4 linked regions of the Homo sapiens genome follow. The protein of the gene in region 4 interacts with the protein of the main gene of each other region in a biochemical or structural test. Each region holds a gene or a part of one and is shown on either strand. Other genes may lie near its edges.

The links.
Region 1: the proteins of SNAP25 (region 4) and KCNB1 form a complex in vitro, tested with the Homo sapiens proteins (one study listed by BioGRID).
Region 2: the proteins of SNAP25 (region 4) and STX2 form a complex in vitro, tested with the Homo sapiens proteins (one study listed by BioGRID).
Region 3: the proteins of SNAP25 (region 4) and SCAMP1 form a complex in vitro, tested with the Homo sapiens proteins (one study listed by BioGRID).

What each region holds. Positions count from the first base shown.
Region 1 is NC_000020.11:49,374,653-49,381,677, forward strand, and holds part of KCNB1 (potassium voltage-gated channel subfamily B member 1), read right to left. Parts: intron 341-7,025; coding exon 1-340. UniProt on the Homo sapiens protein: Voltage-gated potassium channel that mediates transmembrane potassium transport in excitable membranes, primarily in the brain, but also in the pancreas and cardiovascular system.
Region 2 is NC_000012.12:130,836,234-130,843,850, forward strand, and holds the start of STX2 (syntaxin-2), read right to left. Parts: upstream 3,018-7,617; 5' UTR 2,867-3,017; coding exon 2,837-2,866; intron 1-2,836.
Region 3 is NC_000005.10:78,356,013-78,363,630, reverse strand, and holds the start of SCAMP1 (secretory carrier-associated membrane protein 1), read right to left. Parts: upstream 3,015-7,618; 5' UTR 2,960-3,014; coding exon 2,903-2,959; intron 1-2,902. UniProt on the Homo sapiens protein: Functions in post-Golgi recycling pathways. Acts as a recycling carrier to the cell surface.
Region 4 is NC_000020.11:10,221,809-10,228,833, reverse strand, and holds part of SNAP25 (synaptosomal-associated protein 25), read right to left. Parts: intron 2,157-7,025; exon of another isoform or gene 2,054-2,156; intron 1,548-2,053; exon of another isoform or gene 1,396-1,547; intron 1-1,395.

The sequences.
Region 1 (7,025 bases), about 39 Mb from region 4:
GCATGATGCGGAAGATCTGGACCACGCGGCGGACATTCTGGAATTGCAGCACGCTCTTGTTGGATTCGGTGAGGAAAATGGTGACATAGTATGGCAGAATGGCCAACAAGTCAATGGCATTGAGTGGGCCCTTGAAGAACTTCCACTTCTTGGGCGAGGAGAGGAACCTCAGCAGGTACTCCATGGTGAACCATGCGATGCACACGGCCTCCACGTGGGCCAGCTGGGGGTTGTCTGTGGACTGGCCGAACTCATCGAGGCTCTGTAGCTCAGGCAGCGTGTTGAGGGACAGGGCAATGGTGGAGAGGACGATGAACATGATGGAAATTATGGCAAGGATCTGTGAGGAGAAGAGAGTGGGATTTAGTTATCAACCACCCCACAGGATGATCATCATAATATCCTGGATCTACAGGGCACTCCTCAATGTTCAAGAGCATTTTCACATTTCACTAGTCATTTAATGAGCCAAAAAGAGAATTTGTTGTAATCCATTTATTGTCTAGATGTGGAAACCAAGGCCCAGAGAAATGAAATGTTTTAAAGCTATCAGCAAGCCCAGGGTTCAAGCATACTTTTTCAGATAGTAACCATTTTATAGGCCCTGAAACCCTGCATTGTCTGTCACAACGACTCGACTCTGCAGCTGTAGCATAAAACCAACCTTGGATAATACATACATGAATGGGCATAGCTGTGTTTCAATAAAACTTTATTTACAAAAATAGGCAGTGGACTGAATTTGGCCTGTGAACCATGATTTGCTGACTTCTGATCTAGACCAGTGGCTCACACTGGATGGGGAACTACCTTCACAGAGATGATACTAATGATAATAACTATCCTTGATTGAGTGTTCATTGTGTGCTAGGCACTTTCCATGAAATAGCTCATTTCATTCTTATAATAACCCCGTTCAGTGCTATTAGCTCCATTGAACAGATGCGGACACTTGGGTTTCCACAGCTAGTAAGTGGAAGAGCCAGCATTTTAACCCAGGTCTGTGTGACCCAAGAACATGAGCTCTTAAGGCTGTGTTAAAAATCAGATTTGGCTGGGTATGGTGCCTCATGTCTGTAATCCCAGCACTTTGGGAGACCTAGGCAGGAGGATCGTTTGAGGCCAGGAGTTCGAGTCTAGCCTGGGCAACATAGTGAGACTCTGTCTCTATAGAAGAACAAAGGGGAAAAAAATCAGATGAAAGCTAACCTTTTGCTAGAAAAATGCCTAGACACTCAAGATTTTGCAGGTAATTCCTAGGGAGGCACAGACATTCTGGGCCCATGTTAACTCCTGATTGGAACTATGTGCTTTTGGGGGCTAAAGACCTTGGCTTAACTACCTTTGAGTCCCCTGGATCAAGAAGAGAGCTTGGCCCAGAGAAAGGGCTCAATGGATATATGTTGAAATTAATGGAATCTAGGCCAGTAGGCCAGTCTACAGACTATGCAGAAAAGCAAACAGATGTAATCAATTGCTCTGAGGGTCTTTTTTTTTTTTTTCAAAAATACAAATCCAATCACATTACTCCTTTGTTTAATAAATCTCCAGGGCTCCTCATGAAAAAATCCAAACCCCTAAACCTGTCTATTGGGTCCCCTATACCTGTCTTGCTTTTGTAGATTTTCCCTTTCTCTTCCTCTGCCCCTGCTAAGTGGGAAGGGGGGGGCCTGGTCACCATGGTTGTATCATTTGATCCTGCCTGCCAATGATCAGAGCATGAAGTTTGGATAAAAAAATCCAAGTTAAGCCAATCCGTACACTGGGGCTTAGCCAGCCTACCTTTGAGAAATTTGAGTTCAGGAACCCAGGCGGTGAGTGGGTTACGGGAGGGTAAGTCCCTGAATTAAATGTTAAGTAGAATCTAGGCTTGAATCAGCTTCATGATAAGCCCAACCCTCAAGCAACTGTCTCCCAAATGTAGGGGACAGAGATGCCATAAAAACATCAGAGAAAGCTGAGCCTTAGCCTAGACATGGTGGCTTACATTTGTAATCCCAACACTTTGGGAGGCTAAGGTGGGGGGATTGCTTGAGCCCAGGAGTTCGAGACCAGCCTGGGCAACACAGTGAGACCCCGTCTCTACAAAAAATAAAAAAATCTGCTGGGTGTATTGGCACATGTCTATAGTCCCAGCTACTTGGAAGGCTGAGGCGGGAGAATCTCTTGAGCCCAAGGAGGTTGAGGCTGTGGTGAGCCATGACCACACCACTGCACTCCAGCCTGGGTGACAGAGAGAGAAACCCTGTCTTGAAAGAAAACAAAAGAAAAGAAAAAGGAAAAAAAAAAAAGAAACGAAATTAGCCGGGCATAGTGGCGGCACCTGTATTCCCAGCTACTTGGCAGGTGAGGCAGGAGAATGGCTTGAACCCGGCAGGCAGAGGTTGCAGTGAGCCGAGATTGCACGACTGCGCTCCAGCCTGGGCGACAGAGTGAGATTCCATCTCAAAAAACAAACAAACAAACAAACAAACAAACGAAAGAAAAAGACAAAGAAAGCTGAACCTTCAAGAGAAGCCAGAGAATGAAGGGAAGGTGCAGATGAAGGAGGAGTGGGGACCGCAGGAGGGTCATAGCAGGGTGCCGAGGGCAGCAGTTAAGAGCTGAGGCTCTGGTGTCAGCCTGTTTGAGGTTCAAGCCTCAGCTCTGCCATTTCCTTACATTGAGCATGTTATTTAACCTCTCTAAGCCCCAGTTTCCTCATCTAGCAAATGGGCTGATAATAACAGTATCTACCTCAGAGAACTGCTGTGAAGATGAAATGTGTTAGCACAGGCAAAGTGCTAGGACAGCTTCCAGCAGCACACGGTGAGTGTCTAATAGATGCCAGCTGTCATCACAGGGGAAATCTCAGCCCACATCACCCCACCCACTCAGATCACCAGCCTCGGGGTGGCCCGGTCTCGGTCTTTGCCTCCTGTCCTTGTTCTGAGACTGTCTGCTGTATCCTGTAAGTCAACCCAATTGCTACATGGGTGAGTGTGGGAGGTTTCTGGCCCTGCAATGAATCCCCAGTAAGGACACTTGGTTGTCAAGTCCTTCTCATTTTGACTCTGACCTCTCTCTCTGGCCACTCCTGCCATCGGTTCTCAAAATTCACACTCCTCTAGCCGCACACTATCATTGGTCAATTCTGCATGTCCGAGCTTCTTGCTTGCTGTCTGGTGAACTCCAATCCATCTTTTCAAATCCAGCCCATGTGACCCCTTCCCTTTGGAGTTCTCCCTGCTTTCCCCAGGCAGGGTTGACTGCTCCATCCTTGGGTTTCCTCACCATTTTACCATACCTTGGGGATACTTACCACTCATATCCCATCACAGGTGCGTGCGTGTGTGTGTGTGCATGCGTGTGTGTGTGTGCACGTGAGTGAGTGTGCTTATTGCTGCCCAGAATTGGTGAGTACTGGGAGGATGGGGATGGGTTCTGAGGTTTATCTATGTGCCCCCAGCACCTAACCCAGGGTGGGACACCTGACAGGTGCTCACCAAGTATTTGTTGGCCGTTGCTCAAGTTCATGGAGTTAGAAGTAGAAGGGTCAGTACCAGAATTCAGGTTTTTTTTTTTTTTTTTTTAGAGACAGTATCTTTCTCTGTTGCCCAAGCTAGAGTGCAAGGGTGTGATCATAGCTTACTGCAGCCTCAAACTCCCATGCTCAAGCAATTCTCCCACCTCAGCCTCCCAAGTAGCTAGGAATACAGGAGAGCACAACCAAGCCCAACTAATTTTTAACCTTTTTTGTAACGATGGGATCTCACTTTGTTGCCCAGGCTGGTCTCGAACTCCTGGGCTCAAGCTGTCCTCCTGCCTTGGCCTCCCAAAGCACTGGGATTACAGGTGTGAGCCACTGCACTGGCCTGGGAAATATTTCTTGGTCATCTACTCTGCGTGAGGCACTAGGCCAGACATTGGGGATGCCACAGGGGGCAAGAGAGTGCCAGTGCCCTGATGGGCCAGCTCTGAAGATGAAAGGGAATGTTCCAAGGTGTGGTGCCTCCCCAGCCTCAGGGGTTCCATAACTTCTGATTTTTTTGCTATAGTTAAGTCTGACACATCCTATGTTTAAAAAAAAATAGGTTTGAGTTTCTTGATTTGCACCCATTGAAAAAGGAAGATTCTGTAATACTTTATAAATGAAATGTTTGAGGCAGGGTGCAGTAGCTCAAACCTGTAATCCCAGCACTTTGGGAGGCTGAGACAGGTGGATCACCTGAGGTCAGGAGTGCAAGACCAGCCTGGCCAATGTGGTGAAACCCCGTCTCTACTAAAAATACAAAAAAATTAGCCAGGTGTGGTGGCAGGCGCCTGTAATCCCAACTACTCGGGAGGCTGAGGCTGGAAAATTGCTTGAACCCGGGAGGTGGGGGTGGCAGTGAGCTGAGATCATGCCATTGCACTCCAGCCTGGGCAACAAGAGTGAAACTCTGTCTGAAAAATAAAATAAAGAAAATAAAATGTTTGATATATACAAAAATAGACCTAATTTATATATAATTTATGAACCATAATCAAATGAACACCTAGAACCCGCCACCCAAATGGAGAGACAGAGCAGGCAGCAGTAACACTGACACTTCCTTTGTGTCTTTCCCACTCCAGAGATAACCTCTGTGTGCAGTTTTTCGTCCCTTTGTTTCTCTGTATGATTTTCAATAAGAATATATGGGTCCCTAAATTGTCATTTTGTTGCGTTTTTTTTTTTTTTTTTTTTTTTTTTTTTAAGAGGTAGAGTCTCACTCTGTGGCCCAGGCTGGAGTGCAGTGGTGCAATCACAGCTCGAATACCTAGGTTCAAACGATCCTCCTGCTTTAGCCTCCGAGGTAACTTGGACTACAGGTGCATGCTACCATGCCTGGCTATATTTTGTAGAGATGGGGTCTCACTATGTTGCCCAGGCTGGTCTTGAACTCCTGGCCTCAAGCAATCCTCCCACCAGGGCCCCCAAAGTGCTAGGATTACAAGCGTGAGCCACCGCACCTGGACTTTGCTCAGTTTTGACGTTATACTGTATGTATTTTGCTACTTGTATCACTCTTTCCTTAATGGTAAAAACAAAAAATCAAAAAAGCCCACTCACCTTCTTTATTTTATTTTAGCTTTATTCTAAGAAATCATATGCAAAATTGCTGATTTTTCATGCCAGGGCTATATGTATTAAATATTCACCAAAATAAATATGTAATTGTTGGAATAACATCTTGGCAGCACACTTTTTGGTGCTCCTGTGTTGAGCTGAGGAGTGTGGGTCCTGGAGTTGAAATTCTAGCTCTTGCCATTCATTGGTGGAATGGCCTTGGGCATCCAAATGTTCACTGCCTCAGTTTCCTTATTTGTAAAATGAGGACATACTAGTGGTTTTTAAGGGGATGATTTTTACTCCTGGGGGACACTTGGCAATTTTGGCAGAAATTTTTGGTCGTTACAACTGGTGGGAGGGGTGCTCCTGACATCTTGGGGGTGGAGGTCTGGGATGTCACTAAATGCCCTACAATGCACAGGACAGCTCCCACGGCAAAGAATGATCTAGCCTGAAATGCCATCAGTACTGAGATTGAGAAACTCTGGGACATGCCAATAGTCAGCCCCTCACAATTGTGGAGTTGGGGACACAGAGTGGGTCAGAGTGGGCAGCCAGTGGGCTTTGGGCTGAGCCCTACAGGAAGCTGCTCTCGTCTGGTGACTTCTGGCAGGAGGGCGCCTGCACAGGGAGGAATGGGTTCCCTGGGAGTCTGTTCCTTTAAGAGCTGGGCAGTCTTATTTTCCCCCAAAGGCTAGCAGGGGAAGCCTGCTTTGGTTTCTAACCCCCAGACAACTCCAGGGAAGGCCCACATAATTGATGTTCTGGCGACAGATGCATGAATTATGCACCCAGCTATTGTACAGACCTAAAGCAGGCACCCCTTTTGTACTTGAGACTGTGCCCTCCCTCTCCCCTTCCCTCAGCCCAAGGAAGCCTAGGAAACGAGCAAAGCAGGGGGAGGGGCTCCACTGGACTCCAAGGTGGAGGGTGTGGGGGAGTGCCTGCTGCTCAGGGTTGGGTTGGGAGGGTCAGAGCACACCTGCCATCGGTCTGTGTGAATGTGCATCACACAGCGTATGCGGTAATGCAGTGTGGGGGGTCTCCCCTGCCCCACCCCTCCTGACCCCACCTGCAAGAACTTTTTCTTTCCCAGACTCAGTGAGGCCCTTAGAATCAGGGCCACACTTCCTGCCTGGGGAACTTCCCAACGTGATTTAAGCCCTCTGTGCCTCAGTTTCCCTATATGTAAGACAGGGATCATTGCAAGACTGCAATGAAAATTCATTGAACTCAAAATGCCCTTAGCTAGTGGCACAATCACTTTAAACTTTAATTGTATTTATTTCTCCACATTTCTTTACATTTATTTATAGCTGGTTTTGGACTTGAGTTTGAGTCCCAAGGCTATTATTCCCCAGCTGTGTGGCTTTGGACAAGCCACTCCCCCTCTCTGAGCCTCTATTTCCTTTTCTCTGAAATGAAGATGAAGGTAACTGAGTACTCACCTAAAAGCCACTTAATATATAATGTTATTAAATTATTATTCAGGGCCGGGTGTGGTGGCTCACGCCTGTAATCCCAGCACTTTGGGAGGCCGAGGTGGGCAGATCACCTGAGGAGTTCGAAACCAGCCTGGCCAACATGGTGAAACCCATCTCTACTAAATATACACAAATTAGCCGGGTGTGGTGGTGGGTGCCTTTAATCCCAGCTACTTGGGAGGCTGAGGCAGGAGAATCGCTTGAACCCGGGAGGCGGAGGTTGCAGTGAGCCAAGATTGAGCCACTGCACTCCAGCCTGGGCGACAAGAGGGAAACTCTGTCTCAAATAAATAAATTATTATTCAGGTAATTTATGGTCAACCCCATCCCTAACCTCTGTACTGGTTGCTTTTGGAAGCCAGGAGTAGCTGTGTAGACCCCAGTGACTGCCTAAGGCAGCGTGCGTCCTCTAAACAGCTCGTGGACCCAGATGGACTGTGTTGATTTGGTTTCTGGGATAAGCCCCA
Region 2 (7,617 bases), on a different chromosome or scaffold from region 4:
TTTAACTTACTATTTTATACTAGGGAGAAGGTTGTTCTTTTCTCTTTTTTTGAGACAGGGTCTCAATCTGTCTGTTGCCCAGGCTGGAGGGCAGTGGCAAAATCTTGGCTCACTGCAACCTCCGCCTCCTGGACTCAAGCAATCTTCCCACCTCAGCCTCCTGAGTAGCTGGAACCACAGGCATGCACCACTACACCTGGCTGAGTTTTTGTATGTTTTTTGTAAAGACAGGGTTTTGCCATGTTGCCCAGGCTGGTCTTGAACTCCTGAGCTCAAATGATCTGCCCACCTCAGCCTCCCAAAGTGCTGGGACTACAAGTGAAAGCCACTGTGCCCAGCCAGAAGGCTGCTTTTTATAACTCCCTAAAAACAAAAAATCTGGTAAACATTAATCACACTTATAATTACATAGCACTTGCTCCCTCCCACCTTCTCCCAGAGCTTCACACATTAGATAATTTTATGCTTCATAACTCCCTCTATGAGGTGGACAAGAGAGATACCACTGTCCCCATTTCACGTACAAGAAAAAGTTTTGAGAGATTTAAAAATTATTTGCCCAAGATGAGAAACTCCATGAGTGGAAACTTCCACGGATATACTCTCTGACTGCTCAGCTGCTGTGTCTAAAGCAGGATGGTATTGAAGTAGATGAGCTGACTTCTAGCTCTGCCGTTCTAGAACAAAACTGATTGACATGTTCTACTGTTTCAGGAAGGGTTTGGATATATAGAAACTGAGTGACAAATAATTGCCTTATTTGCTTTTTGCTATTCAAGCCAAGAAAACGTACTTTCTCACGATTCCCCAACATATAAATTTGGCTGTATTTTGCCAAAATAGTCACAGCTCTCACGTTCAATGACATTGAGCTTTTTTTTTTTTTTTTTATGAGACAATGTCTCACTCTGTCACCCAGGCGGGAGTGCAGTGGCATGGCACAATCATGGCTCACTGCAGCCTCTATCTCCTGGGCTCAAGGAATCCTCCTAGCTTAGCCTCCTGAGTACCAAGGACTACAGGTGCGAGTCACACCTGGATAGTTTTTTTGTGCGTGCTTTGTTTTGTTGGTTTTTCTGAAACAGAGTCTCTTTCTGTTGCCCAGACTGGAGTACAGTGGCACAATCTCGGCTTTCTGCAACCTCCGCCTCCTGGATTCAAGCGATGCTCCTGCCGCAGCCTCCAGAGTAGCTGGGACTACAGGTGTGCGCCATGACATCCGGCTATTTTAGTAGAAACGGGGTTTTGCCATGTTGGCCAGGCTAGTCTCCAACTCCTGACCTCAAGTGGTCCACCCAACTCGGCCTCCCAAAGTGCTGGGATTACAGGCATGAGCCACTGCGACTGGCCTCCTGCTAATTTTTTAATTTTTTTCGAGAAACAGTGTCTCCCTGTGTTGCCCAAGCTGGTCTCCAATACCTGGGCTCAAGTGATGCCCCCACCCTGATCTCCCAGACTGCTGGGATTACAGGAGTGAGCCACAGCTTTTCTTCATTAAATAAATACCTGAGCTCCTACTACACGGCACTGAAAGATAATCCATCGGGCAAGACAACACAACTATAATTTGCTGTGTTTAAGATGATATTGATCTGCGGAACACAGGGAATATTTGTCCATTAATAAAAAAGGAAAAATCACCGTGAAGAAACTTCCTTGGAATGAATATAAAGCATAATTTCCATGATCCTAAGGATGAAATCATTGCCTTTCTCAACCAGAGCTCCTCATCTGAACCACAGAACACAGATAATGATTTAAGTGGCTCTTTTCTCTATTCTCCCACTCGGGGGTACATAACAGCTCCATTCTAGCAGCAGAGGAGAGAGAATAATTCATTACATGCAGTGGGTGTCGTAGGGCTGTGGGCCTTAGCACCCCTGTTCTGAGGCTGCCAACAATTTAGAGACCAGAGGCTCTATCTGTGCACACACGTAGCATGAATTAGTACCTGTATTGTAAAGGGAAAAAGTCATAACTACTTCTGCTGGCCTAAGCCGTCCTGGGTTAGACAAGCTTGGAAAGTGCACGACCATCACTATCATTCCGCTGTCACTGCACCATGCACAGTCCTGTCACCTTTACACGTGTAGAATGCATCGAAATCCTTCCAAAATTTTTAGTGACCTGCTTTTCCCTTGCTAAAGTAAACAGTAACTTGCTGTGTGCCCGGCTGCTGGGCGCGTAAGGTGCGTTCAGAGTCAACACACGGTCCCAGTTTCCAAAGCAAACTACTGGGAGATCAGACACAAGCTGCTGTTCGCGCTCGCCCCACCCCAAGCACCCAGCACTCTAAGGTGCCCACATTTCACACCCATCTGTTGCCTCCCGCTTGGTGCACAGTCCTTTGTGAAGCCCCAGGGATAAAGCAGCGACCAAGAGGACCCGGCCTGCTCCCCGGGGCTGACGCCAGCTGCGGGGACCCCGTGGGGCGGACCACAGTTAGGCCAGTGGGCTCCGGCTGGGTAAGCGCCAGATACAATCCGCCAAGCGGAGTGACGGACAGGGAGCCACGCTCGAAGAGGGGGTCGAGGCCGGGACCTTCCCCGCTCCCTCCTCCTGCCCCAACCCGCCCTGAGGACTCCGCCCAGGAAGCCCTGGGGACCCCGCCCGGAGCCCCCACCCTAGGACTCCCGGGACCCCCGCCCTGGGGACCCCACCAGCAGTCCCCGCTCAGGACTCCCTGAGACCCTGCCCGCAGCCCCCGCCCCAGAACGCCGGAGATCCCCGCCCTGGGGACCCTCCCGGAGCCCCGCCCAAGACGCCCCGAGCCCCCGCCCGCCCTCCAGACGCCGCCCCGGCCGGGCCTGAACCGCTACCCGCGGCTGCCGCTCACCGCCGTCAGGTCTGGCAGCCGGTCCCGCATCCCCGCCGGCCGGGCAGCGCGCCCCGCCGCTCAAGCCTGTCCCGAGCTGCCTCCGGCCGGGCCTCGGGCTCTCCGGTCTCCGCCTCAGGCCCCGCGGTCCCGGCCCGGCGCCAGCAGCCCTCCCTGGAGCCGGCGCTGCCACGGCAACCGCGCCCCGCGCGCTCTGCGCATGCCCGGCCCGCGCCGCGCCCCGCACCCACCCACACGGCGGCAGCGCTTTCCAGCGGGAGCCCGGAGGGGCGGGGCCTGGGGGCGGGGCCTAGGCGGGGAGGGGCGGGGTCCGGCCGAGCCCCAGGCTGGCAGTTCCGCTACACGTGCTGTTTGTCCCTTGATCTGCTTTTATGCTTTCACACTCATTGTTTTATTTATCAAAATATAGAGCATTCAACGAATAGTGACAAAAGAGCAAAGCTCCCGGAATGTGCTGGGTGCAGCTTTGGGTAATACATATGCCGAACCTTCTCTTTAAGGGTCCACGCGCAGCCTCGGGTGTGAATGAAGGAGAAGAGATCGTGTACCACACATGATGCTTACGGAGCATAACACGGCAGGGGGCGGTAACGGGAAGAGCGTCCGCAGGCCCAGCCCTGGGATACCATTCTGGCAGGAGAAACAGGCAATACAGACACAGACAAATAAATGATAGATGAGAAAAGAAAGTAAGGGCATGGGCACGGAACTGGCAGAGAGGTCGTCATGAAGGTGCAGGAGCTTAGGTGAACTACCCAGGTTGGGGGAACAGTCCCCAAGACCATTATCACCTCTGACACCAACGGCAAATTCTGGCGGTTTCCAAAACCACCTTCAAGTTCCATAATTTGCTAGAAGGAATCACAGAATACACTAAAAACTACTGTACTCACAACTATGGTTTCTTAGCAGGAAAATGATACGGATTAACATCAGCCAAGGAAGAAGGGCAGAGGGGGAGTCTGGGGATTACGGCGTGCAGCTTCAAGGTCCTCCCGTGGTCCTCTCCCTGTGTAGTCAGGCCTCATTACTTGCCCTGCACTGATGTGTGGCCTTACACACGAAGTACTGCCAGCCAGGGAAGCTCACTTGAGCCACAGTGTGCAGAACGTTTACTGGGCTCCATTGCATGTGCATGATTGATTGATTGTTTGATTGCTTTCATGCTTGATCTCAGCCTCTTGGTTAAGTGATATCCATGTAACCCTAAGCCCCCACCATAAATCACACTGTTACTCTCTGGCTAGCCGAAGACTCCCAGGCAAACAAAGATTGCCTTCCAGGAGGAGAAGGCAAGGCCAGATTTGTTTTTAAACAAGGTTAAAGTCTTTACTGCCTCCTGGAGGAGGTGGCTTTGGTCTGACCAGAAGGCAGCGCTAAGAAATCTGCTTGAGAGCAACAGGCTACACATTAAAAAACAGGACGTTTTGGACTTGGTTCTAGGTGTGATGTGGTTCTGTTACCCGATGGAAGGTCTTGACAGCCAGTTGTCCAGGTGAGTGTGGTGGCGGGCACCTGTAATCCCAGCTACTCAGGAGGCTGATGCATGAGAATTGCTTGAACCCGGGAGGTGGAGCTTGCAGTGAGCCAAGATCGCACCACTGCACTCCAGCCTGGACAGTAAAGCGAGACTCCGTCTCCAAAAAAAAAAAAAAGATATGTTTTTTCTCTCCATATCCTGAACTTCCCCACCAGAATGCCTCCTGGACCCCGCAACAGGCAAGTGCTTTTCTTTCGGCCTTCTTGCCTCTGCCACCACCATTTTAATTCTCCCTCTCTGGTAAATACTGGGCCCTCCCTCGTTTCTCCCTCTCTCCCAGTGGATTTTTCAAAAACATATGATAATATTGGCAGCAGCTGGATGGTGTTGAATTGGCAACCAAAACTTTTTGTTTGTTTGTTTGTTTGTTTGAGACAGAGTCTTATTCTGTCTCCCAGACTGGAGTGCAGTGGCATGGTCATAGTCCACTGCCGCCTTGAACTCCTGGGCTCAAGTAATCCTCCCACCTCAGCCTCCAAAAGCACAGGGACCACAGACATGAGCCCACCATGCCCAACCTCAAAACTTTCCTTATCCTGCCAGAGAAAAAAAATGAAGTTGTGAATAATCGTTGTGGGAATTCAGGGACCCTGAATGGAGGGACCGGCTGAAGCCATGGAAGAAGAACATAAATTATGAAGATTTCATGGACATTTATTAGTTCCCCAAATTAATACTTTTATAATTTCTTATGCCTGTCTTTACTGTAATCTCTGAACATAAATTGTGAAGATTTCATGGACACTTATCACTTCCCCAGTCAATACCCTTGTGATTTCCTAGGCCTGTCTTTACTTTAATCTCTTAATCCCATCATCTTCGTAAGCTGAGGAGGATGTATGTCGCCTCAGGACCCTGTGATGATTTTGTTAACTGCACAAATTGTTTGTAGAGCATGTGTGTTTGAACAATATGAAATCTGGGCACCTAGAAAAAAGAACAGGATAACAGCAATGTTCAGGGAACAAGAGAGATAACCTTAAACTCTGACTGCCGGTGAGCCAGGCGGAACAGAGCCGTATTTCTCTTCTTTCAAAAGCAAATGGGAGAAATATTGCTGAATTCTTTTTCTCAGCAAGGAACATCCCTGAGAAAGAGAAAGCATCCCTGAGGGTAGGCCTCTGAAATGGCCGCTTTGGGGGTGGCTGGGCATGGTGGCATGTGCCTGTAGACTACTCAGGAGGCTGAGGCAGGAGGATTGCTTGAGCCCAGGAGGTTAAGGCTGAAGTGAGCTGTGACTGTGCCACTGCACTCCAGCCTGGGCAACAGAGTGAGACCCTGTCTAAAAAAATATATATATACACATACACACATGCACTATAAATATATAGTATATACATACTATACACACACATATAGTGTATACATGCTATATACACACATATAGTACATACAAGCTATATGTATATACAGATCGCAGCTGTAGGGATGAAATAAGCCCCAGTCTCCTGTAGCCCTCCCAGGCTTATTAGGACGAGGAAATTCCCGCCTAATAAATTTTGGTCAGACCAGTTGTCTGCTCTCAAACCCTGTTTCCTGATAAGATGTTATCAATGACAGTGCCTGCCCGAAACTTCATTAGCAATTCTAATTTCTCCCCGGTCCTGTGGTCCTGTGATCTCGCCCTGCCTCCATTTACCTTGTGATATTCTATTACCTTGTGAAGCATGTGATCTCTGTGACCCACACCCTATTTGTACACTCCCTCCCCTTTTGAAAATCGCTTATAAAAACTTGCTAGTTTTATGGCTCAGGGGGCATCACGGAACCTGCCGACATGTGATGTCTCCCCCAGACACCCAGCTTTAAAATTTCTCTCTTTTGTACTCTGTCCCTTTATTTCTCAGACCGGCCAACACTTAGGGGAAATAGAAAATAACCTACGTGAAATATTGGGGATGAATTTTGCCCAATATCTGGCTGAATTTCCCCTGATAAATAATAATGTGTAATTTATCATTTTTGTTCATATTACATACATACATATGCAGTCAAGGTGTTTTTGGGGTCAAAACATCAACCAGATCACAACAGTGCGTTCAAAACACCATCATAACAGCCAAACACTAAAATTGAATGAAATCTACATGGAGGCTGAGGTGGGAGGATTGCTTGAGCCCAGGAGTTGGAGGCTGCAGTAAGCTGTGATCATGCAACTGCTCTCCAGCCGGGTCCACAGAGCAAGACCCTGTTTCTAAAAAATAAATAAATAAATAAATAAATGTTTAAAAAACTTAAAGAAGAAAACGCGAAAGAGGCAGAGGAAGAGGAAGAAGGAAAAAAGAGAGGAAGAAGGAAAAAAGAAGGAAGAAAGAAAAAAGGAAGGAAGGAGAAAAAAGGAAAAAGAAAGGAAGGAAGGAAGGAGAAAGGAAATATGGAAGAAAGAAAGAAAGAAGAAGGAAGGAAGGAAGGAAGGAAGAAAGAAAGAAAGAAAGAAAGAAAGAAAGAAAGAAAGAAAGAAAGAAAGAAAGAAAGAAAGAAAAGAGAAACAAAGGGCTAAGTTACATTCCCGAGAAAATCTGACTGGAGCCTGGGCAACATAGCAAAACACTGTCTCTGCAAAAAATTTTTAAAAATTAGCTGGGCATGGTGGCATGTGCCTGTAGGTTACTCAGGAGGCTGACGCAGGAGGATTGCTTGAGCCCAGGAGGTCAAGGCTGAAGTGAGCTGTGATTGTGCCACTGCACTCCAGCCTGGGCAACAGAATGAGACCCTGTCTAAATATATATATAATATATATTACATATATATATAATTTATATATATATTATATATATTATATATACATTATATATATAATATATATAATTTATATATATATATTATATATTATATATACATTATATATATAATATATATAATATATATATACACACACATCCACTGTAAATATATAGTATATACATACTATATGCACACATATAGTATATACATGCTATATACACACATATAGTACATATAAGCTATATACACCCATATAGTACATACAAGTGGTATACACACACATATAGGATATACATGCTATATATACTCATATAGTACGTGCTACATATACACATATATAGTATATACTATATAGTATGTATATGCTACATAGTATATAGTATATACACACATATGTATATAGTATATACATGTAGTATATATACACATATGTATGTATGTATATATGTATATATAGTATATATTGTATATATACTACGTATATATAGTATATATTGTATGTATACTACGTATATAT
Region 3 (7,618 bases), on a different chromosome or scaffold from region 4:
TGGAAAACAAATAGGATTTAATGAAAAAGAAATTAGCATAGTTACCAAATGCGAAATATCATATACTTGAAAATAAGAGCTTTATCTTCAAATACTGCAAATAAAAACAGATTTGAAAAATGGGTCGGGCCCAGTGGTTCACGCCTGTAATCCCAGCACTTTGGGAGGCCAAGGCGGGTAGATCACGAGGTCAGGAGATCGAGACCATCCTGGCTAACACGGTGAAACCCCGTCTCTACTAAAAATACAAAAAATCAGCCGGTGGTGGCGGGCGCCTGTAGTCCCAGCTACTTGGGAGTCTGAGGCAGGAGAATGGTGTGAACCCAGGAGGCAGCGCTTGCAGTGAGCAGAGATCGCGCCACTGCACTCCAACCTGGGCGACAGAGGGAGACTCCGTCTCAAAAAAAAAAAGAAAGAAAGAAAGAAAGAAAAACGATCTGCTTGAACGCAGTGGCTCCCGCCCGTAATCCCAGCACTTTGGGAGACTGAGGCAGGTGGATCACGAGGTCAGGAGTTCAAGACCAGCCTGGCCAATACAATGAAACCCTGTCTCTACTAAAAATACAAAGAATTAGCCGGGTGTGGTGGCGGGCACCTGTAATACCAGCTACTAGGGAGGTTGAGGCAGGAGAATCACTTGAACACGGGAGGCAGAGGTTGTGGTGAGTTGAGATCACGCCATTGCACTCCAGCCGGGGCAACAGTGCAAGACTCCGTCTCAAAAAAAAAAAAAAAGTAAAAAAAGAAAAATGATCATAAAGTAACTCAAATGATTCTAGAAACATTTCAGATTTAAGTAGAGTATCAGAAATGTTATTTCAAAAATCACTTTTACATAAATATAAGCAGAAGTAAAAAGACAAAATATAGATATAAAACTATACTTTGTGAGGAGGAGGGGCAGGTGAACATAAATGGAAAAATAAAGGGTCAGATACACTGACAGTGCTATAACAGTCACCAAAAACAGAGAAAGATCATAAGCAGAAATATGTGTACAACCAAGTCTACTTTAGACCTAAATGATCTGTCCCTGATGCATTTTACAAACTTGAATAATCATTGTCCTGGATACATCCACTTATAAAAGAACAAAAAAGATTTATAACGTTATGCCACAATGAATATTTAAAACAACTCCTGGGTTTAGAATTACTACAGCAACTTTATGAATGTCAGAAGAGGAAAAGTGTCATGGCAATATCAGATGTCACAAAAGGACAGTCTGGGCTAAGATGAAGACAATGTTTTGCCCTAACAAGAGAGCCAGTTAATATGAAATGAACCATGAAATGGAATGACCAAGTAGAAAATACACTGCCAAATCGTCAGATGCTGAATAAACAGCGTCAGTGAATTATCTGAATTAGGAAAGGCTAAAAGGTTCTTGATGTTTTATCTTCAAAATATTTTAAAATAACACCCATTTAACAATTTATGAACGGTCTCTTTAGAAAGTCTACCATTTAAGAACTACCTGATTTTCCACAACATGGAAGCAAGTCCAATACTAATTGAAACAAAACTGCCAGGAAAAAAAAAAAAGTCTTAAAATGCAACCATGTCACTGAAAGGTACAGGCCAGTTGTACTGAATTTTAAGTGACATTAGGGACAATGAAACAGTGACTGAGTCTAATTCTACACTGCTACAAAGTGAGTCGAGTTGTCAATAATAATCAGGGTCATTTCATTAAAATAATCCTCCTTGGAATTATCAGGCATTTAATAATCAGAGCAGAAATAGTTTTCCTCTTCCAGGATTCTTAATGAAAGATAAAACCAGGAGTAAAAAGATGTAAACTCAACAAGCCAGAAGTGACACTTGTGTGACCACAAATTAGAGTTCCTGTTTTATTCTGTGTGACTGCAAATTAAAGTTACTACTGCACATGGCCGGGGGGATTGAGAAACAACTTCAACCAACAGTTGGAAACAAATTACACGTGCTAACAGTTACACTCATTAGGAAATTCAGAATACTTTCAAAGAGAGAGTTATTTAGATGTTGCATTCATTTAAACGCAGACGATGAATATCTCAGCCGCCTTCCTTTGCAGGATTCTGTGCCAAGCCCTTCCGAAGCCGGGGTTGATAAGGTCGACTCCAAGAAGAAAAGCAGCTCAAGTAGGAAATGGTATCCTCACATAGCCCAGAGAACCGGTGACGCACTAGGAGCTTGGAAAATATCCCATCGTTTACCTTGCTAGAAGCAGCTGGGTAGGGAAGAGGTCGTCCACGTGCACTATTGTTTTCCAGATATGTTTATTTTTAAGTTTTGCTTTGGTATCAATAACCTCAACCTCAACCTAACAGAAAGAGGGGGGATGGCAGCGCCACTGGTGGTATTTGGGTGCAACACAAGTTTAAAAAATAAAAACATAACCTTTTTTTTTTTAATTGCAGCATACTCGGTGCCCTCACCTCTCTCCTCCTCCACACCTCTGCCATCACCCCACGCAGCTCTCCGCCGCCGCCACCTCGGGTCCCCATGACAACCCCACCCCAGGGCGGGCCCCCCTCCGCCGACTCCCGGCCCTGCCAGCCACACTTGCTTGGCAAGGGGCGACTCTACCTGCCCTCGGCTTTCTCTCCTGAGAGGCGGGCCAGGACCCCTCCGGGCGCGCGGGCCCAGTCCCGGCTGCAGACACGACCCTCACCAGTCGGGGACGTGTGGAAGGGCGACCGGGCACGAGCTGAGGAGGTTCCACCCCCAAGCCCCAAAACCCAAAGGAGTGACACGGGGCCGGGGCGCGACCCCAAATGGAGGACGGCGGCCCCGCGCCCCTCTCTGGGCTGCTAAGGGGAGCCGAGGGGCAGACGCAGTGGGCGCGAAGGAACTCGTCCGTTTTCACAAACAACGACGCGTCGCGGCGGCAGGAGATGCTGGGGCCGAAGCTCACCTTGAAGGGATTGTTGAGATCCGGGTCGGCAAACGGGTTACTGTCGAAATCCGACATCTCTCTGGCTCTCGGCGTCACCCACCCGACCCAGGCGCAGAGAGAGAGACGAGGCGAGGCCGCCGCCCCCCTGCGCGCTCACGTCGCCGCCGCCGAGCAGATCCGGGTGCAGCTCGCGGGCCACCCAGCCGGCCGCGCCACTGAGCATGCCCGGTGCGGCGGGCTCCTGGCCGCGGCGCAGCTCGCGTTCGCCATCCCGTTCCTCCGGGCCCGGATCCCACGCTCCGGGCTTTAGCTGCGACCGAGTAGGCAGTCGGGGCGAAGGAAACGGGAACTGAAAGCGATGAAAAGCGTTCCACACGCCACGAGCCCGCGGGATCCTCGGAGAGTATGGAACCCTTCCCCTCCGCTCTCAGCCGGAGGCCAGCTGCGTCCAGCCGGGCTCGGTCTTCTGAACACCGATTTCAAATCAGGTCCTCGGGGCCCAGCGTCACTTAGGGAAGTGGTGGCATTTTGTGGTAAGGACGCACACTTGTCAGGTTGGGGGAGGCAGCCTGAGTCGTGGGCCGCGCACCCCGGGAGCAGTGCCGTTAGACCGTGGGACGCGGGCACTGGAGAGGCTACTGCACCGCCCTCCGCAAATTACCTCCCCGGGGCGGGGGCGCGGCCGCTGCTAAGGATTTTTGCATACCCCTGACCCCACCTGAGAATCCCGGCCTCCCATCTTCCGGTCTCTCTGACTCTAGGTTGCTGCTAAATCACGGAGAGCAGCCTTGGCGCTGCCGGTCCCAACTTGATCCAAGGAGCCTTGAGAAGGAGATGAGATTCAGTACCAGGGGCCGGCCGTGGCTCCCATCCTCCGGAATCTGCAAAATGGCTACTTCTTCAGAAATAATGGGGAGAGGGATGGCAAGAGGCCAGAGATCAAGGCCCTCGAGTATTAACTTGAGCATTTGGGCACAAAATAGACACTTTTGGATTTTCCCGTCTTTTCCAACACCAAGGATGAGATTATCAAAAGATGTGTTAAATTAATTTGTACCGGCCGGGCGCGGTGGCTTACGCCTGTAATCCCAACACTTTGGGAGGCCGAGGCGGGCGAATCACAAGGTCATGAGTTCGAAACCAGCCTGGCCAATATGGTGAAACCCCCGTCTCTACTAAAAATACAGAAATTAGCCGGGAGTGGTGGCGTACGCCTGTAGTCCCAGCTACTCTGGAGGCTAAGGCAGGAGAATCGCTTGAATCCGGGAGGTGGAGGTCGCAGTGAGCCGAGACCGGGCCACTGCACTCCAGCCTGGGAGACAGAGCGAGACTCTGTCTCAAGAAAAAAAAAAAATCAATTTGTACCATTCCTTGCCCCACCCTGCCGAACTTATTGAAAGAGCATCGCTTTCCTCACTTTTCTCCTCTAACAGAAAAGCACTTAGATGAAGCTACAGGGAGCCAGAATTCTTTTGACTTGGTGGGTACCGGAGGATTGGAAGAATCTAGATTGAGTATTCCTTGGCCTTTGGGGAGCTTGCTCTATGCAAAGTCACCCAGGAAATGATACTCCCCCCACTGTGAAACACTAGCTAGAGATGATAGACAAAAAGCACATTTGTTGTAATCTCCCTTTGACGGGATTCAGGTTGGGATAGATGTCGAAGCAGCTGCTTCTAGGTAGTCAACGAAGATGTCAACTAGTAAATGACAACAGACAAGGATGAGCACAGCAGAGCTGTACGATTCTAGATATCAAAAAGAGCAAGCAGTCTGTTGTACTCACCATCGCATCCTCAGCAGCTGCCCAGTGCCCGGTTTTAACTTAGTGCTCAGTGTATGTGTCAGGTTTGAATCCCAATTCTGATACTACCTGTGCTACTCTCTTCACCTCTCTGAGTCTGTAAAGGATTATTTAAGAATTAAATGAAACAACATACAGAAAAGTGTCCTGCATGTATATTTAGTGCCTAACAAATATTGGTTGAACGTCGAAAGTGGCAAGGAGGCTCAGTATGTTCTTATACGCTTTGCCTCCCTTCTCCTGAGCAAGCATGTCCTTGCCCAGCTCATCTGCTTCTCTCACCACTTTTGCCCTCACTCCCTCCACCTGTCCTCCAAATGACTCAAAATAATCTGCACTATTTATTATGCATCTACTATGTTCCAAGACAATGAGGGTCAGCTGAGCCCGCATTGCAGGATGGAAATTTCCAACTATGTTCTGTTTACAGCTAATGATATTTGCACCTAATGCAAAGGTTTACAGACTTTACTGTTATAGAATCATTTGGAATACCTGTTGAAGATGCAGACACCCACCTTACCATACCTCCTATTGCTAAGATTACGCTTGAAAGGATCTGAGGTAGGGGCTCTGGATCTGCATTTTTTATTTTTTACATCTCTATACATTATTTTACATAAATGTATAAATGGAGTCATGACATACATATTGAATTTTTCACTTACAAAAATTTTTATTCCGTGTATTCCCTCTTCTCTTCCCCTACATTAACAACCTAGTACATTTCTTTAAATATTCTTGTAATAGTGTATATCTGCACTTACATAAAATAACATGTAATTGTATAAAAACAATACATATTCATGCAGATATGCATACACTCTAATACTGAGCTTTGGCATTGTCTTGAAAAAGTTAGATCATATGTATATTTTTCTGCAGCTGTTTTTCTCAATACGTATGGCAGAATTTCTCAGCAAGATGTGCATTGTCAGAGAGACAGTCTTAAGGTTTCTTCCCCTAGTATGCCACATAAATATTATCACTTTTTATGTGTAGCATGCCTATAGAGTGAAAAGGGAAGCATGGCCTAATGGAAACCATATATCTGATTCATTATTCTTAACAACTGCAAAAATCAGCATATGTAAAGGATCTCAGGTGATTTTTTTTTTTTTTTTTTTTGAGACCGAGTCTTACTCTGTCACCCAGGCTGGAGTGCAGTGGCACAATCGTGGCTCACTACAACCTCCACCTCCCTTGTTTAAGCAATTCTCCTGCCTCAGCCTCCCGAGTAGCTGGGATTACAGGCATGCACCACCACACCCGGCTAATTTTTGTATTTTTAGTAGAGATAGGGTTTCACTTTGTTTGCCAGGCTGGTCTCGAACTCCTGACCTCAAATGATCCAGGCCACCTCTGCCTCCCAAAGTGCTGGGATTACAGGCATGAGCCACCATGCTTGGCCAACCTGAGATGACTTTGGTGGTGGCTGATCACACTTTTGGGAACACTGATATGAGGACATGCAGACATATGGTCCATGGGTGAGGGTCTTAATCTGTTTGTGTTGCTATAAAGGAATACGGGAGGCTGGATAATGTATGAAGAAAAGAGGATTATTTGACTCATGGTTCTGCAGGCTGTCAGCTTCAGATGAGGGCCTTATGCTGCTTCCACTCATGCAGAAGGCAAAGGGGAGACTTCGTGCAGAGATCACATGGCTACAGTGCAAGATGGGGCATCAGGGGAGAGAAAGGGAGAAGCTGACTCTCGGTTCTTTTGAACAACCTGTTCTCAAGGATGAGAACTCACTCTCAGGAGAATAGCACCAAGCCATTTGTGAGGAATTCATCCATATGGCCCAAACACCTCCCACCAGGCCCCAACTCCAGCACTGGGACTCATATTTCAACATGACACTTTGCAGGTCCAAAGCCATACCCAAACCATAGCAGGGAGCTTATTAATTCATTAGCCTCCATGAAATTTAGAATTATAGAATGTGCGAGCTGAGAAGGAACCTCAGCCTCTCTCATGATTGAAGAAACTGGAGTTTGGACAGGTTAAGTAATTTGTCTCAGACACCAAGGAAGTGAATGGGGAAACAGGGAACAGAACTCAGGTCTCTTGACTAATGTTTTAGACATTAAATAAATAGGTTATTAAATGAATAGAATTATTCTATATGAATAATTTCATATAGAAGGAAGAAATGCTATGTGCAAGGTAGAGAGAAATTATACAAGAAGCCTCATTTGGTGCAGGAGTTCATTTTACGGAAGGTACCTCCTAAATTTGGTAGAACAAAGACTCAAAACCAGTCTATGCCCTCTCTCCTGCAAACCAACCGTTTGATCTTGAACATATCAACTCACCTTTCTAACCAGAGTTTCTACTCTAGTACATCATTCAAGTATTTCTTGAGCAACTAAAACAGTGATGTTGTGGATAAAGCAGTAAACCAGGTATAAAGCGTAAGGCCTGCTCCAGAAAACTTCCTAAAAGGCCTAGAACATGGCTAAAGGATATCTCAGATCCTTTGGACAGTTCTAACGTTCTATTAATCTGGGACAGTGGCTCACTCCTCCCTAACCCTGTTTCTTTTCCCCTCAGAGTGTGCCTCCCATCATCATCATGCTGCTTCTCCTCAGACTGACACTTTTAATTGGTGAACCTATTGAGCAGGGTCTAGAGTCTGAATTCCTTGTTTTCTAAACTGCCTAGCTTATAGCTGGGGAATGCTAGGAAAATGCCAAGTTAGATATTTACGTTTCTTGCCTCAAAAGGTTCACTGGATTCTGGGTTCACTGATGGATTAGAACTGAAATCCATCATCTCTTACAGTGGGTCTAGTCTCCAGATTTGCTGCTGTGTCTGCTGATACCCTCGACGCCCCAGCACCAGCCTATCTGGCTCCCTATTCTGCCACTGGCTACATTTTCAGGCAATAACAGAGGAGGTGCAGGCATTGTGTGGTAGGCCAA
Region 4 (7,025 bases):
TCATGTAACCTATAATAAAGAACCCTGGAAATCTGGTATGGCAAATAGCAGGTAACTGAACATAACAACAGTCCCTTCCTCTTTCTCAGAGTGGTGGAGGTAACTACTTCACAAGCATTAGCTCCTTTAGGTCTCACGACAACCACTTGACATATATGCATGGCAGCAATTGCTCTCCTTTTACAGATGTAAATAAAAGTGAGGCTCAGTTCAGATTAGGTAAATTGTTCAGGGTTATACAATTGAAGTGGCAGAGCTGGCATGCAGCCAGCTGACTCTCCACCCATTGCTCCATGAACTTGTTTGGACACATAGTTTCTCTGGTCACTTACACCACCATATCTCACCTGGCTATTTAGCTTGGAGGACTCAGCTTTTTAGATTTGGCTGACTCACGTTCTATGTATCAGCAGTGTGCTTTCTGTTAGAGGATCTCAATGTATTTTGTGCAACTCATGGGATAATTTATGGGGTGGTGGGGAAAACCATGGACTTTGCAGTCAGAGACAAGTGTTCCGAACTCTTTTAAGGCTGCCATGGAAAATAAAGGAAACAACATACATCAAGTGCCCAGTGCAGCACACAGTAGACATTTAGGAAGTTAGTTACTTTTTTCCTTGTGGTCATTAAGTGGTAGTATCTTCAGTCTTCTCTGGAGAAAGTTGGATGCAGAGTAACCCGTGTTTTCATGAGAAGGAATGGGGAAAAAAGATATGCAAAATTCAATGCTCAACTGGTGAAGGTTTTTTTCTAAGGACAAATGGGACTTATTTACCAAATCATGCCCAGGCTTATGATTCTCTCCCAGGCAAGAGGACACTGACTATTTGAGAGGAAAAGCCCAGAGACTGGTGTCTCTGAAGGACACTTTTAAGGAAGCGGAATTGACATGAAAAACTTGTGTCCACCATGCCAATTCTAATAGCACAGCAGCAAATATGTGACCCTGAAAACACAAGTTGGCCAAAGCCATAAATCTACCCCACTGGTGAATGTAATATATGTCTCAAATGGATGTATGAAATATCCTTTTCATCCTAGTGAACAGTAAAACATTTAAACTTATAATTCATATATGCTAAACTGCTTGACTTTAAATGCTCTTAGTGAATGGCTTTTAATCTCTGAATATAAACCTGATTTTAGCAATGCCTTTATTGAGAATCCTTTGATCCTTCGTTAGCATTTTAACTCCTGACTCATAAGTGATAAAACAACAGATTAGAATATTATACCATTTGCCATAGTTTGGCAGCTAGTTAGGGTAAACCTAAGTAATTCCTTGGGACATAATTTTATTCCAATATTTAGGATGAATCTATGTGCAAGGGTACACAACAATTCCTGAGTTATTCTGATCATAACATTTGATCAATAAAAAGCAGGATTACTTACAGTGGTAGAATTCTTTTCTCTGCAAAGGGGTAGCTGGTATCCCCATTCGCTCACTTATTTCCTGCATACATGGGTGTGGCAGGCACTGTTATAGGTACTGAAGATTCAAAGAAAGCTAAGATATTACCCTTGCTCTCAAAGACTTCCAAAGTCTATTAAGAAAGAGAAATACATAAGTAGGTAACTACAAAGCAGTGTGATCAATCTTACAAGGGAGATAGGGGCATTGCTCATTGGTAAGAGGTGAATTTCTAGAAGTAGGAGTTTGGGAAATTAAGACATAATTCTACTTGATCCAGAATCACTACATAATTCTACTTGATCCCGAATCACTGAACTTTGTTTAATGACAGGAAGTTTTCAGAGGAGGAAAGTGGATTGGATTGGGAAGTACTCTCATCCAAAGGATCCTTTCTTAGTCAACCTATTCTTGCATTGCTCCATGAGTTTTGGAGTTGGGAATAGGATTTCTGGCCCAGGAGGTACCATGTTTCTTAAAGCTTGACCCCTTCCTCCCATGAGCGGCAGAAAGTGGTCTCTACAGGGAGAGATCCCAACAGATTGGGATACTGGAATATAGTCATGTATTTAAGGGACATTTTAGTGACATCCTAGTTGATTGCCATGTAAATAGAGACAAGTTCACACAAAGACATACCTTAGATATTTACTGAGTTCGGTGATGGCTGAGGCTGGTTCTTAATATGTATTTGTTTATGATATAGCAATCTCTCTGTAGATACTGACAGCTCAGTAGAAACCTTCAATAGATTGTATATTTTGATTAGAGAGCCATAGCTCTTTTCTACATTGAATTAATGTCTTAGATTCTAAAAGGCATCCCATTGAAACATGCCTTTTAAAATAATGACACCTCAAGAGGGGACACCTAGCATAACACATGGAGGGCAGAAACATGATGATTTTATTTACAGCTCTGACTTTAGGAACCAGTGTATGTTTTCCTGGTACATGGCAGGTGTTCAATAAATATTTGTTCAATGGATTAATTAATGAAGAATGCCATAATAGCAGCTGATTTATGATGAAGCAATACATGGGCAGTGATCATGGAATTGGAAAAAGTAGATACATTCAGCAATTTCTCTGGCATAAATTAGGAATGGACTTTCCCATTAAAATAAAAAATTCACTCAACAAGGCTAATGCGTATTGAAATAGTTTGCCAGTGTTCTTCCTAGCAGTCTTTCTGGCATTTATTTCTGTGCATTTTCTGTTTATTGATAGAGAAGTCACAGTGTGATTTACCTATACCTAGCTGCCAGACCAACTTCGGAATAACTGCAGGGAAATTTAAGAAATTCACTGTTTTGGAATTTGCCAGTTATTATTCTTTGAAACTGTACCAAAGATGAACATAAATAAAGGAGATTAACAACTTGGTCTGAGACTCTTCATGGAAAGGGAACTCTGTCCAACTTGCAGGATTTTCAGAGCTCAACTGAGAAAATTCTCTGAAAAAGGAATGAGGCAGGAGTGTAGGGCTGAACTCTGGCCTCAGGGGGGCACCTAAGAGACTTTCATTTTTTTACTTGCTGTTATCAGTAAAGGACAGAAACCACTGATTCAAGGTTACAGGCATGGAAAGTCATCTCTCAAGTTCAAGATCTGTGACTAGTGTCATTTGAATAAAGGAAGTGATGGGGAAGCTGGGACCAGATGGTCATTTTGTAGAACCTGCCACTTTGGAGGAAAATAACCTTTTTCTTTAAGTAAAAATGGACCACCTTGGAAGATTAAGACACAATGAGTCAGCAGAAAGTGCCAACAGTCTCAATTTAAGACATGAGAATTAGACATCTTTGAGTAATATGAACCATATCAACAACAGCAAAGAAGAGGATGAAATATATTTTTCCACAACCAAAGAAAGCAAGCCATAAGCCCAGTACAGCTGTTATTCAGCATCATTCGGGAGCAGGCATCATTTGACTGAATTTCTCTGGAATCATTGTTAAGCATTTAGAAGGAAATGCTAATCCTTAAATAGGATTTCCCCCCATCTCTTTTTAGGGATACAGATTTGTTCTTACCAGTAAGTCAGTCACTGCTGAGGTTGACCTCTGTAGTCAACAATAAGAAAATCAGTTAGGATTTCCTCTTGTGATACCATGTTTTACCTTGGTGGAAAGACATTGAAATCTGCAGTAGGTTGTGACAAGGCGAATGTGTTTTTTTTTTTTCCCCTCCGGGACATGTGAATTTATTTGATGTGTGACTATGAATTTAATTAATCAACATTGTACCACCAACTGCTGACCTCTGACCTCATAGGCTTTAAAGCTTCCTTCTCTCCTTGTCCTATGTTTTTAAAGCTTTCCTGTGATGTCATTTTACCCCACATCCTCCCAATGTGATTAGTTTTTGAGCTGGCTATCAGTATCATGAGATTCAGGTCACACAGGAATGTTACTTTTAAAGTACTTTACAGCTCACAGATTCTATAAAAGCTTCTGTTTCCTCTTTGCTAAGCGGCAGAAGAAGTAAGAGGATGAGTGAGGGAACTGCAGCTAATACATTGCTAAGTCAGACACACGAGATGATCAAGAAGAGGTCTAGAAAGAAATTTATACAAAGTTTAGGCAGGTTGTAGGAGACAGTATGTGCTAGATAGCTACAAATCTGATTGAGAAGGACAGGAGATACCCAAAGCAGTGATGACTCAGAATAGGGCTTTGAGGAAGAAGACAGGATTTCTTAACTCTGAGAAGGCTTCAGAAAGATGAAGGCAAGCAATTCTGAGGGGGGAAAAAATAAGGATTGGGATGAGGGAGGCGATGAATGTAATTAATCTTCCAATTGGGTCCAGATCAGTTACTGAAGCATTATTAAGATGATGCCAGCTGAGGCCATCGGTCACTAGGCCAGGACCCATTGCCTGGGGTTTTCAGCACTGATTTCATTGATTTTTGAATGGTAGGGATATTGGACATCATTAGTCCACTTCTATCATTCTGCCAGTAAAGAAACCAAGTTCAACAGTGGTGCACTGACTAATTTAAAGACTGTGTAATTCCAAACAGGAAATTACAAGCAGTTGTTTCAGGGCTAGAGCTGGGTCTCCTGGCTCTGACCAGCATCCTTACCTTCAGGCCTTGCTACCCAAGTGAGGAGGAAAAGACTGCAAAAAAAAAAAAAAAAAAAAAAAAAAAAAAAAAAAGACATGTACATTCTCTATGCCTTATTTGGCCAATATGAAAAATATGGATGATGCAAGAGGTAGCATAAAATACACTTCATAGCTTAATCTCTGGAGTCAGACTGATTACATTTAAGTCTTGGCTCTGCTCTGCGACAAGTTACTTACCCTTGCTGTGCATCAGTTATTTCATCTGCGAAATGGAAATAATAATAGTAATCTGACCACAAGGTTGTTAGGAGGATACAGTGAGCCAGTATAGGTAAACACTTTTAGAATGAGTGTCACATTCTTCCCCATAAGCCCATTCTGATTAATCACTGATTTGGGTATCTCTGTCATTCTAAATCAATTTATGTCTTACTAAATGTGATCTAATACTATATCTGAACATATGTGTCTGTGGGTTGCACTATTTATTTAGAAATCAGAAATTCCTTGGACTTTCATATTGGGTGAAGTGCTTGAGAGTCTTGTGAAGAAAATTATGTAGAAAGAGTAGGTATTATTGTTAAGGCAATAATAGCAATTCTGAGGAGTTCACAGTGTAGCTGGGGTTCTCTAGAAATTTCTATGAAGTCTTTTTCCTCTTGTAAGACTTTTTTTTTTAACTTTTTGTCCCCTCATCATGTCCTACTTCCTCAGTGCTATGTCATATCTCCTTCCTTCACCTTACTTGATGCTTGTGTAGCCCCTGGACTCAGTTTAATAACCACCAACCTGACCTCCTAAAGCATCAAATGTCACTACCTCTAAGTTTCCCCTAGGTAGTCAGCTTGGATATAAAAATGTTATCCTGTGGTGTCTCTACTGCCAGTGTTTTAGTGAAGAATAGATGAGGATAGTCTCTTGATACCTTATAGCCAGAAATGAAATGGCAGTAAAATCTGTATCTACCGTTGCCATTTCTTCCTCTACATGAACCCACTGACTATTTTGGCTTAGCAATTCTGTCAGCATTTGGATTTTTGAAGCTCTTCTGTGAGAGTAGTAACCACAAGGTTAGAAAGGAAATGGGTGTAATCCAGACCTCGAGGTAGCCCTGAAGTGAGGGTAACTAGCAAGAGTCAGCAAAATAGGCAGGGAAAGAAATCTGATATACTACCCATTCCAGTTTTTCAAAATTCTACCATTCCATCTTTTTCCTCCCATTTTTAGCCACTTGGGGCTGGTCCTATATGTCATGCTGCTCAAAACATGCTCAGAAGAAATGACAACTTTTTTCATTCCTCCCGTCAGTGCACTTGACAATGCTGAATATTCACAGAGGGCAAGAGAGTGTTCAGCACCATGTTTATTATTCAAGTGCACCTTCTGGGACCTTCTGGGGTGTCTCATCACCAGATTCTTGACTTTCTTTTCAGTCTGCCTGGCAAGTGCTCAACTTGCATAATTTCATTTAGTCAATAATGGAAAATGGAAACTTGCAATTAACTTCCAAGCAGGAATTATATGTCTATGTAGGTATATGTATCCTGAAAAGTAGTCTTAAAAGATGCTTCAGTAAGGACTGATTTTTTTTCATTAACCATCTCTTATGATACCAATTTGCTCCCCTCTACTTCTGGAAGAATGCAAATTAAATCCACTCTGTCAATAGTAATTTCTGGATATTAAAAAGACCTGGTTACTTTGTTATATCAGCTTCTGCTCAGAAATCAACTTTAGAGGATAAAGTACCAAATTCTCAGCTTGACATTCAAAGCCTTCCACAGAAGGCTCCAACTCTGCATCCCAGCCTATTCCCTCCAAGCTTCCCACTCCACCCAAATCAATGGGCATTTTCAGGGTTTGCCAACTGTAGAGTGGGCTTGCCTAACTTGATATTCTGCATATGTTGTGACTTCAGCTTAACAGAACTCTCCCACCTCTCTGCAACCTCCAAAAGCCATCTCAAGGCCTGCCTCTTCTCTCAGATTGTTCCAGTCCACTGCGATATCGCCCTCCTGATTTTATGTTACTTATTGTTGGTTACATTCACTTGGAAATTAATCACATATGTCCTCAAAATTTGTCTTCTAATGTTTTATTGCATTTAATTCTGGTTTTATTTATTAACTTATTGTTTATTGCTTTTATTAAGATTGCTAGATGCTAAACTTATTGAGGTCAAGACAAAACCATGAAATTTTATAACTCCCATGGGATTCATTTCTGTATCCGGTGAATACCGATTGATCAGTATCTTCCTATCAGGTTGGTACTTGCTGACAAGGGATGACATTGCAGAAAGTATCCAGCGCTGAGGCTTAAAACACAGATTTTTCCTTCTTTTATAGAATTGTAAAGCAGTCCCATAATGTGAGAAACATTGTTTATTCATAGTGAATTATCTAAAAAGCATATTTTCTATTTTTCTCCTTCATGTCTCCTCTCTCAACCTCTTTCTCAGATTATTTTTCTCGTTTCTACTAATCGTCAAAACCTACGTGTTATGCTGAAGGCTGACTGCTTACGCAGCTTCTAGGTG